Homo sapiens: one gene and its partners. The protein of the gene in region 1 purifies or fractionates together with the protein of each later gene. This does not show direct contact. Each region holds a gene or a part of one and is shown on either strand. Other genes may lie near its edges.

Evidence for each region. Proteins that work in one complex are often made in the same cells at the same time.
Region 2: the proteins of FAM153A (region 1) and KIF3A purify together in Homo sapiens (affinity purification with mass spectrometry; one large-scale study listed by BioGRID and IntAct). This does not show direct contact.
Region 3: the proteins of FAM153A (region 1) and EDC3 purify together in Homo sapiens (affinity purification with mass spectrometry; one large-scale study listed by BioGRID and IntAct). This does not show direct contact.

Annotation. Positions count from the first base shown.
Region 1 is NC_000005.10:177,723,164-177,728,602, forward strand, and holds the end of FAM153A (protein FAM153A), read right to left. Parts: intron 1,659-5,439; coding exon 1,621-1,658; intron 1,200-1,620; coding exon 1,132-1,199; intron 1,044-1,131; coding exon 950-1,043; 3' UTR 201-949; downstream 1-200.
Region 2 is NC_000005.10:132,716,043-132,720,771, reverse strand, and holds part of KIF3A (kinesin-like protein KIF3A), read left to right. Parts: intron 1-57; coding exon 58-163; intron 164-3,787; coding exon 3,788-3,927; intron 3,928-4,329; coding exon 4,330-4,527; intron 4,528-4,729. UniProt on the Homo sapiens protein: Microtubule-based anterograde translocator for membranous organelles. Plus end-directed microtubule sliding activity in vitro. Plays a role in primary cilia formation. Plays a role in centriole cohesion and subdistal appendage organization and function.
Region 3 is NC_000015.10:74,685,021-74,689,749, reverse strand, and holds part of EDC3 (enhancer of mRNA-decapping protein 3), read left to right. Parts: intron 1-2,570; exon of another isoform or gene 2,571-2,659; intron 2,660-4,729. UniProt on the Homo sapiens protein: Binds single-stranded RNA. Involved in the process of mRNA degradation and in the positive regulation of mRNA decapping. May play a role in spermiogenesis and oogenesis.

The DNA of each region.
Region 1 (5,439 bases):
TTGTTATTGCCTAATAAGACCTGGTCTTTCTAGCATCCCCACCGGACCTGTCTTTGCTTTGTAATTTTTAAAATTATGCTTTGGTAAGACACAAATTTCTCATGTTTGTATATTCTAGCATAAAAGGGTTACAGAAGACATACATTTGAAAGTGAAAAACAGTGTATATGTACACACACACACACACACATTCATATGTGTACCTTATTTCAAGATTGGAAAATATATTTAAAAAACAGAGGCTCGCTAAATCATGTCCTCAAACCCTCCCAAGTGAGCATGGCCCTGAAATGTCTTCAAGGGTTTGTTTTGTTGGCATTTGGCCCAAGCCAGTGCCCTCTACATACAGAAGCCTCCAACCTCATCTTGAAAAAGGGGGCCATGAGGCCACCCCAGGCCCCCACAGAGGCTGAAGGACCCCTGGAACTGGAGGCCCCCAGACCCCCCAGAGGCTGAAGGACTCCTGGGACTGGACACATTTCAGTGCTTCTTGGATCCTGCCGTGTCCCCTGCTTGACACCAGGACCTACTGAGGGCCTGCTGGCCTGCAATACTGGGTCGGGTGGGCTGCTCGCTTGTGTGACAAGGAGCCTGGGGGTGCCTCCATCCCTCTCACACCTTTCCCAGGAGGCCTGAACCAGGGGGATTCATGTCAACCCTAGTGTCTCCTCAGGATGAACTAGTGATGCTCCCTGTTGTCCTCAAGGGGCTGGGAAGACAGAGCTAGGTCCCCCCAAATGAGATGTTGGTGAGCTGAAGAGTTACTGCAGACAACACAGTGCAAAGCCCTTGGAGTCCTGCACATGGGGGTGCGACCAGCACCTCAGTGTCTCCCTCACTAAGCAGCCTGTGGAGGGCTCAGCCCAGCAGGCTCAGGGGCTGCTATGGAGTGGGTGTCTGTTTCCTGGAGCATGTTCTCAGGGCATCCTTCACTTGCCTTCAGAGGTCTCTAAAATATATTAAAAATGTCCCAACATTTCAGGACATTCCACCGGCTTTTCTTGCTGGGCTTCCTGGTTTTCTTCTTGGGCTTTCTGGTTTTCCTGATGGGACAACAAGAAAGTGAGCGTAGCCAAGAAGAACATGGGCACGTGCCCACTTCCCTCATCATTCTGCCCACTGCACACTCACACTTCCTCTTCCACTTTGGTCTTTTCTGTTGCTTCTTCTGCAGGTGCAGAGGAAGGACTTGCTGACATCTGTGAGGAAGAGAACAATTGTGCATGTCCAGAGACGCCAGTGCAGGAAAAGACCTATCTGTGAAGGCGGTGTCCAGAGCAGACCCAGATGTCACTGGGGGGTCCCTCCAGCAGGGTGGGGTCCAGCTCTTCTGACCCCAGCCCAGCCCCCTCCCCTGGACCCTGTAGGGTTGTTCAGCAAGATTCAAAGCTGCAACCTGGGGGCCAGTAAACAGGGCAATGCCAAGGCAGTGGGCAGGAGGGCTGGAGAGGGATTTTATCGACACTGAAGACCCGAGGACCTCAACTGTGGGATGAGACCAGGTCCTTCAGGAGAACAATCACAAGAGAGGGAAAGAGGAAAAGGACTAGAGCTAAAAAAGGAGCTCATGAGTCAGAAAGAGGATAAAAGACAGCCAGCATATAAGAGGAGATCAATTACCTGCTGGTGGCTGCCTGTAATGGTGGAGTCTTCCAATTCTGTGAAGCAAGCATCAGAGTGTCCGGAGGAGCAGCGGTGATGGGGTGGCCATAAGAAGGAAAGGGGAGAGTTAGAGTCGAGAGAACCACTCAGACCCCGCTGTCCTGGGGCTGTGGAGCCAACCCCAGAGCCTCTGATGTGCTCATTTCTGGAGCCTTCTCCACAGCCTGTATCATTTCCTCTGTGCTATGAGGGAGGGACCTCTGACTTCCCATGTACTTTCCCAGCCCTCACATTCCATAACTGAGCCAAGGGAGGGGAAGCCGTGTCATTCTGTTCCTCCAAGAGGCAGCGCCCTCTTCACAACGTTGTGCGTGACATGGAGTTCCCTCCCTTCTCCTCCTGTAGGGCCTGTTTCTGTTCCCGCATGAATCCCATTTCCTTTCACCCTGTGGACCTCCACCAGTCCTACTGTTCTCCAAAATAAGAACACTGGAAAGAAGGTCAAGGCTGCACTGCCAGGGCCTCCAATCAACCCACGGATCGCACCCTGGGTCAGCAGCACCTCCCACAGGCCTGGGGTTGTGTTGGGGCCTGCGGGAGGTGATGATGGCCGATGTCACTTATACAGTGACTGTTCTATGCCTGGAGTGACCTTAGAGACTTGGAAAATATTCAGCCCTCAAAAGAATCCCAGCAGCTTCTGAATATTTGGAAACAATGGAACAGAATTCAAGGTAAAGCTCCTTGTCCCAGTTGCCTTAATCTGCAAGTGAGGCCAGCAGTTGCCAGCACAGAAATGAGGGGACCCTCCCAGGGTTTGCCTGAGCTGTGGGAAGACTAGGAGGGAAGGTACCTGGAAGACCTGACACAGAGAACAATCTGGGCCTGACTGGAGTGTGGGGAGAAGGACAAGGCTGCTGAGCCAGAGAGGAGGGTGTGACAAGACAAGTGACTACTGTGCCAGCTGCCCAGAGGCTCTGCCCTGGGCCCAGTGGATTCCAGGGACCAGGCTACAGGGAGGGTGAGAGCCACTGCCTACAGCAACACAGCAGCCCCTCCACACATATCCCTTAGGATTCCTGCCAGCCACAGAGGGCCCTGAGCAACAGCTAGACTTGGGCCTCTCCAGTGAAAGCCAATTTAGGTTTCATTCAAAGCACAGGGATTTGGGATTGGATGGGATTGGGTGAGGAGTGGAGGCCAAAACTGTGCTCAATCATGTGTTCTGCCCTCAGGACTCCAGGATGCTGGGGCACACGTAGGAATCCCAGAGGAAGGATTCCCTGTGTCATCCGACCCAGGGAGCACCCTTAGAGCAGGAGCAGACAGTGAGGACAGGACAGGAAGGTGCTGTTGCAGGTCCCAAGAGTGTAGAGAAAGACAGTGGGCTCCTTTCACCTCCTGGCACACGTATGAAGGACTTTGTCTTCAGGATCACGTAGCGCCTATGTGGGGCTGTGTCCCACCCCACACTCAACTTTACACCTGCATACTCATCTTGTGATCTCTATTCACAAAAAAATGCTACCTCATCAAAACCCAGGGCTCTGGTGCTTACTGTGGCAAAGGCAGGAATGATCTGGTCTTCTGCAAAATGTAATATTTAAACACCAGAGCAAGAAATGATGGTGACATACACAACTCGCACAAAGCCCATGAGAACAAAACTCTTAGGACTTTCTCATTAAGATACAAAAAATCCCAAGTCAGACTTCTACACCTGTTTCATATTTAGTCACTTCACTGATCCCATCCTAGGCTCCAAAATAAGTGTAACCCAATTCCCAAGAACCCTGTCTCACTGGTCAACCCTGGAGTGTTGGTCCCTACCTGACCAGTCTATTTCCTCCTGGATGGATCCAGAGGTGGTGCCCATGAGCCCATGTACAGAGACACAAACATTAGTACTACTGCTCTGTCCACTGTGATTCTCCCTGGGCTCTGTGAACTCAGGGGCCTTTATGAAGGCACTGCTCACAGTTGTGAGCCTTCAGGTAAGACAGAGGACCTGAAATAATCCCTTTCAACTGTTCACCGACACTGGCTCATAGCATCTCTTACCTCCAATCTGAGAACCTGAGATTCCAGCCTTGATGCAAATGCACTGAGTTAGGTGGGTGCAGAGAACAGAACCTGGGCCAGACTCACAGCAGCTGCTTCCCAGGTGATTCTGGGAGAATGGAGATGCTCTCTTAAGAGTAGACTTTTGGCAACTGGGAACTTCTAGCATGGCTCTTGTGAGGAGGTTATGAATTTTTTCATTTATTTTAACATGAATGGGCACATATGCCACTGAGGACCATACTGGAATGCACAGGTCTAAACCCAAAGATGAGGAAGATGTGACTCTCCCCCCTGGTGATTCCTGGCAGAGTGGTTTGCTGCTGTGATCTGATCATTCATGGATGGGTACTTCAGGGGCACAGGAACAAGCTCCAGGCCCCCTGTGAAGTGCAGGGATGCCACAACAAAAATAAAAAAGCCTGGTCCAGCAAAGGAGGACTCGTAAACAGAAAAACAGCCTCTTCTGCAAGGAGAAAAGCTGAACCAAAGTAGCCAGGGTAGAGATGAGGGGGACACTTCATTGACTTCAGGAGCCCACCCTATTCTCCTGTGACCTTGGATCAGAATCCACTAAGGTTTCTAAATTACTATGAGAAACAACAGATTGAAGGAGATGAGCAGGAAGCCTTTTCACACTGGTGCTGGATCTCAGCAAAGGGTTTGGAAGCATTGGAACATTACTGGGGCCCAAGATGGGCTGCCCAGGGCTAAGCTCTGGGATGAGAAGGAACGAGGAGGACATAGTCCTTCCCCTCCGTGACCAGCCATGGCCAGGATTCATCTACACATAAGTAAAGCAAAACAGAGTTTAGGACTAACAATTCCAAGACTATCTCAGAGAAAAGGCAAAGTGATGTCTTATACATCACACAGGAGAGTTGCAAGGACCACCTGGACTCTGGAGCAGCCCCACTCCCTTTGCTGAGTTCACCTTGCACTGAAGCAGGGTCTGTTCTCACCTCCTCTGCAACTAGTGTGGGGCAGGTATCCTGCCTGATGATTATTTCATTAAATACAATAGAATATGCCACTGATTATTGTCTGCTTTTGAAAAGGAGCTGAGGAATGATTTCACCATTCTAGACCAAAAGCCTGAGGACTGTGTGTGTTTTACATTAATGATCACACTAAAGCCCACTGTGCAATGTACCTACTCAAACAAACCCTGGGTTAGCTGACCATTGAGACCATCTGATAACGATAGTGTTTGGGATCTGAATAGCTTTTCATTCTCCCACATGCACACAGAATTGCTGGAATAACTTGGCCTAGCAAGAAATTATACCAGGGCTTTGTGACAAATTCAGTGTACTAGCTCATGGCATTAACCTTCCACTCATCCCCGAGTTCACATGTGCCTCTTGCACTTAAAAGACCAAGAGCTTGGGAAATTCAACTCTGCAGCGTGTCCATCTGAGGACTGGGTATATTAAACTTATCTTCAGGTACAGCTGTGGTGGACGATGAATGGGTTGATTTATGCAAACTGTGCAGTGGTGATGGAATTTTTCTTGGACATTGATCCTCGTGTTGTGCTTTGAACATGGGAGTATGTTTTCTGGGGAAATGCACACACACTCACAAAGACATCCACAATCATTCCATATAGACTCTCTCCTCTGTCCCTCCCAACTCTGATGTACTACCCCACCTTACATGACACTGCTGCTTCCAGGGATGACAGTAGCATGGTTAGAGTACTGGACTCTTAGTTTGTTGGGGTGTTTTTTTTTTTGTTTGTTTTTGTTTTTTTTTTTGAGACGGAGTTTCGCT
Region 2 (4,729 bases), about 45 Mb from region 1:
CAATAAATAATTGTGGAAGAGTTATTGATATAGTATAAAGTCTTAATTTTTTTTTAGGTTAAAGAAAGACCTGATGTGGGAGTTTATATCAAAGATTTATCAGCTTATGTGGTAAATAATGCTGATGATATGGATAGAATTATGACGCTAGGCCACAAAAATCGTAAGTATAGTGTGTAATTGTGATTAAGCATCTGTGTGTTGAGTAGGCTGGTTTAGAAGCAAATTTGGTATGGCACTTTACCCTGTAGAGACTGGATTTTTTAGGTTTCTTGAAAACCATTCCACTTTGATTATTTACCATGTAGAGAGCATAGATGAATGAAAGATACCACAAATCATTTTCCATGCCGAGCAAAATTTTGTTTCTTTTTAGTAGCGCCAATCTATGCAACTCTCATACGGCTGTCTCTTGGTAGCTATAATAGTAAAATTGGTAATGTTTATTGAGCTCTTAGTGGAGAGTGCTTGTGCTAAGTGCTTCATAAAGATGCTCTCTTAGTCCTCACAGGAGACTATGAAGACATTAAATTCTTACTTTATGAATGAAGAAAGTGAGACTTAGTTTAAGTAACTTGTCTAAGTACTATAACTACTAAGTGGTAGAGTGAGTGATCACACCTAAGCCATAGCCACGCACAGTGGCTCATGCCTGTAATCCCAGCAACTCGGGAGGCTGAACTGGGAGGATCATTTGAGGCCAGGAGTTTGAGACCAGCCTGGACAATAGGGAGCCCCTGTCCTAAAGAAACCCACCTGGAAGAAACCCAAAAAACCTAGGCCAGTAGTCTGCATTAACTAGGCACTGTAATGCTTCCCTTTTGTTGACAAGAAAAGCAAAACAAAATTTAAATTAAAAAATTGTATTCTTTTTAGTAATTGTGTCACATTTTTAGTCTAAAGAGTAGGAAGCTTCAGCGATATTATACAGATGCCTCAAACCTAGTACTGGTGATGCAGCTAATAGCAATTAGAAATTAGAGGTGAAAAGTCTGGTCGCGGTGGCTCACACCTGTAATCCCAGCACTTTGGGAGGCTGAGGTGGGTGGATCACTTGTTTGAGACCAGCCTGGCCAACATGGTGAAACCCCGTCTCTACTAAAAATACAAAAATTAGCTGGGAGTGGTGGTGGGTGCCTGTAATCCCAGTTACTCGGGAGGCTGTGGCAGGAGAATCGTTTTAACCAGGAAGGCAGAAGTTGCAGTGAGCCGAGATCGCGCCACTGCACTCCAACTTGGGCAACACAGCAACCAAAAAAAAAAGAAAAAAAGAGGGATTAGAGGTAAAAGATGAGAAATAGGAAATGAAAAATTTTTATAAGTTTCTGTGACTTGACGATAGATATATCAAACCCAAGGAAATCAAACAACAAAACTTCAAAAATCAATTACATTCTTATGAACCAATTAATAGAAAAAGACCAAATCTTAATAGAAAAATTAGCAAAAAATATGTATGTTATTCGTAGAAGAACTAAGCACAGCAATAAGTATGTGAAAGGCTGTTTAACTTCACAACTAATCAGGAAAATGCTAAAACAAGATAGAGAGAGATGTTTCACCCATCAGATTAGATGAAGGATATGTAGGTTGGTGAGACTTTGAAGAAATGGGCACTGAGGATGGAATATAAATTGGTGCAGCCTATTTGAAGGGCATTGTTAACAGTATCTGTTGACATTTTAAAATACATTCCTTTTGACTCTGTGTTTCTAATTTTAGACATTCTGGAAAATATTTTTAGATGTAACAATCTAAATAACCTTCAATAAAACCCTGATTATGTAAATGATGACACAAAAATACCATAGACTGTAATAAAGCTGTTAAAAACAATGAGTTAGGCTGGGTGTGGTGGCTCATGCCTGTAATCCCAACACTCTGGGAGGCCAAGGTGGGCAGATTTCCTGAACTCAGGAGTTAGAGACCAGCCTGTGCAACATGGCGAAACCCCATCTCAACTAAAAATACAAAAAAATCAGCCAGACGTGGTGGCTTACGCCTATAATCCCAGCTACTTGGGATGCTGAGGCAGCAGAATTGCTTGAACCTGGGAGGCAGAGGTTGCAGTGAGCCAAGATAGCACCACTGAACTCCAGCCTGGGCAATAGAGGAAGACTCTGTCTCAAAAACAAAACAAAACAACAACAAAAAAAACAACAAGCTGAGTGTGGTGGCTCATGCATATAATCCCAGCACTCTGGGTGGCTGAGGCGGATGGATCACTTGAGGCCAGGAGTTTGAGACCAGCCTGGCCAACCTGGTGAAACCTCGTCTCTGCTAAAAATACAAAAATTAGCTGGGCGTGGTGGTGCGCACCTGTGATCTCAGCTACTCAGGAGGTTGAGGCCGGAGGATCACTTGAACCTGGGAGGTGGAGGTTGCAGTGAGCCGAGATTGTGCCACTGCCCTCCAGCCTGGGTGACAGAGGGAGACCCTGTCTCAAACAAAACAACAAAAAAACCCAGTCAGGTAAATGTGCCTACACAGAGCTGGAAGATTTTCAAAGTATGTTTGTCAGTGGGGGGATAAAAGCAAATTGTAGAACAGTATGTATGTACTGCCTTACCCCATTTATTTATATGTGAAAAATTGTTAAACCATATATTTATTTGGGCAGTGTGTGTGTGTTTGTGTCTACACGTATGTATATAAAATACAGAATGAAAGGACAGATTGTAGTGGTTACCTTTAGAGAAGGAGAAATAAAATTGGGGAAAAGGAATGTCAGGAGCTTTCACTTTATGCTTTCTGTATGCTTTTATTAAAAAAACAAATACCAGAAATATGTTAATTATTGGTTATTTAATTAAAAATTTTAACACAAGATTTCATTCATAGAATGAAATTAATTTAATTCTCAGGTAGTTAATTGGAGCTTTTGGTCACTTCATTAAAGATTACCCTTTTAATGTTTCAATTATAAAATCAAAGCTTGCACAGAAAAATGCTGCATGAATGTATAGTAGGAAGATAATTTTGGCATTGAGTAAAATTAACTTTAAAATACTTTGGAATTTAAGAAAAAAACTAATACAGGTCTATTGTAAAAAAATGTTTTTTGTTTACACAATATATTCATATATTTACACATATGCAAATACTTTGCATATTTTGAATGGATTTTTTTTTTTTACAGAAGTAGGATTATGTTATGTATTTCTTTCTAACTTGCTTTTATTTTTAATTTATATGTTATGGACATTTTTCCACGTTTTTAGATCTACCTTATTTTTTTTAATGCTGCACTGAATATTGTTGTATTGTCTAACATATGTGTGCAAGTATTCCTGTGGTTTATATGTTCAAGCTGGAGTGCAGTGGCGCAATCTCAGCTCACTGCAACCTCCACCTCTCGGATTCAAGTGATTCTTGTGCCTCAGCCTCCCAAGTAGCTAAAATTCTCTTTATTATTATTGTTTTTTACTTCCTGCAGTACACCAGCATGCATACTTCTCTTTAGATAGCTAAATCAGCAATAATTTTTCCAATTAATGTGGTTTTTTGGTGTAAATTAGTTATTTTTTAGGCAGTATTACTAGGGATTGAAATTATTTTTTGCTAAAGTTATGTCTTTAATATGAGAAACCTTACAAATTTGTTATCAACAAAGTATAAGAGAAATTTCATGTAGTGGCTAAGTACACACCCATGCCTTTATGGTTTAGCCATGCTCTCTGGCTTTTGATTGTGATAAAATTAAGTGTTTTAAACTGTTCAGGATGTTTAATTATTTTTAAAGGCACTCTCTGTTACACTTTTAAAGGATTTCGTTTATTTATTAAAGGTTCTGTTGGTGCAACTAATATGAACGAACATAGTTCCCGTTCCCATGCCATCTTTACAATTACTATAGAATGCAGTGAAAAAGGCATTGATGGTAACATGCATGTCAGGATGGGGAAGCTCCATCTTGTAGATCTTGCTGTAAGTAACAGGACACTGCTTAAGGAATAACTCTTTCTTGTGATCCATTTATTTTATAAATGAATGAAAATTAAAGTGAAAAGGTATGATTTACATATGATTTTTAAGGTGTTACTTGTGTATGTTTATTATTTATTATGGAACATTTCAAATGTATATGAAAGTAGATAGAATAGTATAGTGATCCCCCATACACTGATCACCCAACTCCCAACAATCAGCTCATGGCTAATCTTGTTTCATGTACTCTCCCCCACTTCTTCCTTTCCTATATTATTTTGAAGTGAATTCAGGCATCATATCAGGTTTTTTACTGTTACATTACTTTTTAATAAAACCTTGGGAAGAATATTCTATTTTTAAAAAAATTTTAGCTTTACTTTCATCTCTGTTTATTGCTAGGGTTCAGAAAGACAGGCAAAAACTGGAGCTACTGGACAGCGCCTAAAGGAAGCTACAAAAATCAATCTTTCACTTTCCACCCTTGGTAATGTAATTTCTGCCTTGGTTGATGGAAAAAGCACTCATGTGCCTTATCGTAACTCTAAACTGACTCGTCTTCTTCAGGATTCCTTAGGAGGAAATTCAAAAACCATGATGGTAAGACTTAATTGGTGATATAGTTAACATCAGGCAAATTTAAGATTGTAATTTATGCCAATAATTGATACGTATCACATTTTTTAAACTTGATTATTTTACTTTTTTTGACTTGTGGTTGTCCTTTTTGTGGTACACTCGTGTATTAGCCCATAATAGTGTCCTTTGGAAACTCATGTGGTTGACACTCTCATTTTCGAGA
Region 3 (4,729 bases), on another chromosome or scaffold:
GATCGAGACCATCCTGGCTAACACGGTGAAACCCCATCTCCACTAAAAATACAAAAAATTAGCCGGGCGCGGTGGCGGGCACCTGTAGTCCCAGCTACTCAGGAGGCTGAGGCGGGAGGATGGTGTGAACCCAGGAGGCGGAGCTTGCAGTGAGCTGAGATAGTGCCACTGCAGTCCGGCCTGGGCGAAAGAGCGAGACTCCGTCTCAAAAAAAGAAAAAAAAAAAAGAAATGGAGGGAGAAGGAAGACAAATAAGACTAAATGAACTTTGGTAGCAAGTTCTTGACTGAATAGTAATTCACAACATCTCTGAATTCAGTAGTCATTACAATTTTAGGAATAATTTATTGGGAGAATAACAGTATCAATGAAGCAAGAGTAAATAAGAAGTATGTTTAAGAAAATACCAAAACCATTGCACCCCACCAGAATGAGTAAGTTGAAGAGAACAATAGTACCAAGTTTTGGCAAGATGAGGAGCAGAAAGAACTCACGTATGGTGGGTTGTATAAATGTAGATGGTAATACAAAATGGTACAACCACTTTGGAAAACTGTTCAGTGGTTCCTAATAAAGTCATAAATATAACATGACTTCCTGTGTTATATGCCCAGTAGAAATGGATGTATTTGTCCATCGCAGAAATATACTGTATACAGTTTAAGAATATTATTTGTAATAAGTCAGAACTAGAAATAACCCAACTATGTATCAGCAGTAGAATGGATAAATACATTGAGGCATGCTTACAGAAAACAGCACAGCTATGAGAAAGAATAAACTTCTGATACATGCAACAATGGGGATGAATCTCACAAATGTACTTTTTTTTTTTTTTTTTTTGAGACAGCATCTCGCTCTGTCACCCATACTGGAGTGCAGTAGCAGGATCTTGGCTCACTGCAACCTCCGCCTCCCCAGTTCAAGCGATTCTTGTGCCTCAGCCTCCTGAGTAGCTGGGATTACAGGCATGTGCCACCACGCCCAGCTAATTTTTTGTATTTTTAGTAGAGACAGGGTTTTGCCATGTTGGCTAGATTGGTATTGAACTCTTGACCTCAAGTGATCCACCCGCCGTGGCCTCCCAAAGTGCTGGGATTACAGGCATGAGCCACCATGCCTGGCCTCACAGATGTACTTTTGAGCAAAAGAAGACAAACACTCTGAAAGAGAACCTTTATGATTCTGTTTATGTGAAGCTCAAAATCAGGCTCAAATAATCTTTCATGATAGATGTCAGAATAATAACTACCTGTAGGAGGACACAATGGAGCCTTTTGAGGTGTTGGAAATAGTCTGTCTTGTTTTGAGTGGTGGTCACATGGGTGAATTGATATGTAAAATTTCAGGGAGGTGTACACTTAAAATATGTAGACTGACTTACTGTATATGTTATACCTTGATAGAAAAGTAGAAAATAAAAGACAAGATTGGTTCCTTGTAGCTCCTGTATCTCCTGTACTTCTTTTGACGTGGAGGTGTTAGCTGTATAATTGATGGAGCCCCTTCCCTAGTCCGATTAGGAACCCAGTTGATGGGCACTGTACTTGTTTTAGATTTACTGTTTTCTGTAAATAGCATAATTTTCTTTATAGAATAAACCTGTTTGAGGAGTTTTGAATAATGCTATTTTACCAAGGGAAGTTTCTGAGGAAAGGGAAGTTTGTTACACATTCAGTGGTTATATTTTTAAAAGTTTCTATTAATATTAACTACATAGAAGAACACTTATAAACGAGTATCCACATTTTCAAAGTGTTAAAAATTCTATTCAGTTACTACTACCATAATATAAACTTGAATGCACAACATCAGTGTCTTAAAGATATATGTTAAATAAAACAGTAAAAGCCTTTTCATATCTGGTTAATTTCTGGTGCTTTTTATTCTGCATCTATCTAAGCATCTGAGTAGAATTATGATGGATTATAAATGATAGGAAAGGAAACTCATGCTTTTGTGACATTAGGCAAAGGTTGATCAGGAAGGGAAAAGAAGCCTAAAATGTGTGTATTTTGTGCTTTTTTACCATCATCATTATTGTTGAAATTGTGTTGCATTGAAAATTTACCCAAGGGCCAGGCACAGTGGCTCATGCCTGTAATCCTAGTGCAGAGGCTGAGGTGAGCAGATCACCAGAAGGCAGGAGTTCGAGATCAGTCTGGCCAACATGGTGAAACCCCATCTCTACTAAAAATACAAAAATTAGCTGGGTGTGGTGGCGGGCGCCTGTAGTCCCAGCTACTCAGGAGGCTGAGGAAGGAGAATTGCCTGATTGAACCTGGGAGGCAGAAGTTGCAGTGAGCCAAGATTGCGCCACTGCACTCTAGCCTGGGCGACAGAGCAAGGCTCTGTTTCATTCTATAATAAATGTAACAAAAAAAAGCCTGTATGAGCCTGCTAATTCATTGTTCTTTTAATCTTCGGTTCTGTCCGCATAGTTTTATGATACTGGCTCAGTTAGATCACTAGAGAACTATCTAGAGTTTGATTAATCCCTAGAGCTGGACTCTTTCAGACTTAGTGTTTCTAATGGGGCATACTGTTTTTTGTTTTTTTTTTTGAGACAGGGTCTTGCTGTGTTGCCCAGCCTGGTCTTGAATTCCTGGACTCAAGTGATGCTCCTGCCTTGGCTTCCCAAACTCCTGGAATTACAACTGTGAGCCACTGCACCCAGCCAGGAGTGCTTTATTTTTATTTATTTTTTATTTTTTTCTAGACGGAGTCTTGCTCTGTTGCCCAGGCTGGAGTGCAGTGGTGCGGTGTCGGCTCACTGCAGGCTCCGCCTCTTGGGTTCAAGCAGTTATCCTGTCAGCCTCCTGAGTAGCTGGGATTACAGGTGCATGCCACCATGCCGTCCACGTCGGCCTCCCAAAGTGCTGGGATTATAGGCGTGAGCCATTGCGGCTGGCCTGGAGGAGTGCTGTATATGCTTTTTTGCCCCTTTCCCTTCATTTATGTATTTATTTTGAGACAAAGTCTTGCTCTTGTTAGCAGGCTGGAGTGCAGTGGCGCAATTTCTGCTCACTGTATCCTCTGCGTCTTGGGTTCAAGTGGTTTTCCCACCTCAGCCTCCTAAATAGCTGGGATTACAGGCACCCACCACCACACCTGGCTAATTTTTGTATTTTTAGTAGAGATGGGGTTTCACCATGTTGGCCAGGCTGGTCTCAAACTCCTCAGGTGATCCACCTGCCTCGGCCTCTGAAAGTGCTGGGATTATAGGAGTGAGCCACCGTGGCTGGCCTATTTAATTTTTTTTGAGATGGAGTCTTGTTCTTGTTGCCCAGGCTGGAGTGCAATGGTGTGATCTCAGCTCACTGCAACCTTCGCCTCCCAATTTCAAGTGACTCCCCTGCCTCAGCCTCCCAAGTAGCTGGGATTACAGGCATGCACCACCATGCCCGGCTAATTTTTTTTTTTTGAGACCGAGTCTTGTTCTCGTTGCCCAGGCTGGAGTGCAATGGCACGATCTCAGCCCACTGCATCCTCCGCCTCCCGGGTTCAAGCGATTCTCCTGCTTCAGCCTCCTGAGTAACTGGGATTACAGGAACATGCCACCGCATTTGGCTAATTTTTGTATTTTTAGTAGAGATGGGGTTTCACCTTGTTGGTCAGGCTGGTCTCGAACTCCTGACCTTGTGATCCACCTGCCTCAGCCTTCCAAAGTGCTGGGATTACAGGCGTGAGCCACTGCGCCCGGCCAATTTTGTATTTTTAGTAGATATGGGGTTTCATCATGTTGGTCAGGCTGGTCTCGAACTCCTGACCTCATGTGATCCACCTGCCTTGGCATCCCAAACTGCTGGAATTATAAACGTGAGCCCCCACACTCAGTCAGGACATACTCTTTTACCAGAGGGGTGCTTTATATGCTTTTTTGCTCCTTTATGTCTGAAATTAGTATTTGAAAACAGTTTCAAGTGCTGGTTTCTTTTTTTAATGTAAAAACACTGAACCAGTGTTTCACTTTGTGCTTAACATGTGTATTTATATTCATCTGCTATCATCTGCTAGCTGTTTTCTGACTTCCTCGTGTGAGTGGGGAAGTGTTAGGTTTCATACCTTATATAGGATTTTGCATAGAGTATGCCCAAGGATACTGTATTTTTTAGAACCATTTTCAAAAAGAGCCAAGACATTTAGATATAAACATGTAGGTACTCTAGATTTTGAGTAACTTCTGTCACGTTTATTATTTCTAATTCATTCATCGATTGATTAAATATTTATTGACTTCTTCCACTCTAGGCACTCTTATTGACTGAACAAGACTATGTCATTTGTCCTATTCTAGTGGGGTGACACACACACTATCTATCTATCTATCTATATACTTTTTGTTTTGAGACAGGGTCTCACTCTGTCATCTAGGCTGGGGTGCAGTGGCCTGATCATGGCTCATTGCAGCCTTGACCTTCCGGGCTCAAGTGGTCCTCCTGTCTCAGCATTCTGAGTAGCTGTAGCTTGTATTACAGGCATGTGCCACCAAGCCTGGCTAGTTTTTTTAATTTTTTTGCAGAGATGGGGTCTCCCTATGTTGCCTAGGCTGGTCTCAAACTTCTGGACTCAAGCCATCTGCCCACCTTAGCCTCCCAGAATGCTGAGATTACAGGCATGAACCACCATGCCTGACCAACACACACAATATGAAGAAACAAGATAATTCATATAGTGATTGATTTTGAGATCATAACAGGATTTAAGGTGTTGGAGAATAACGATGAGT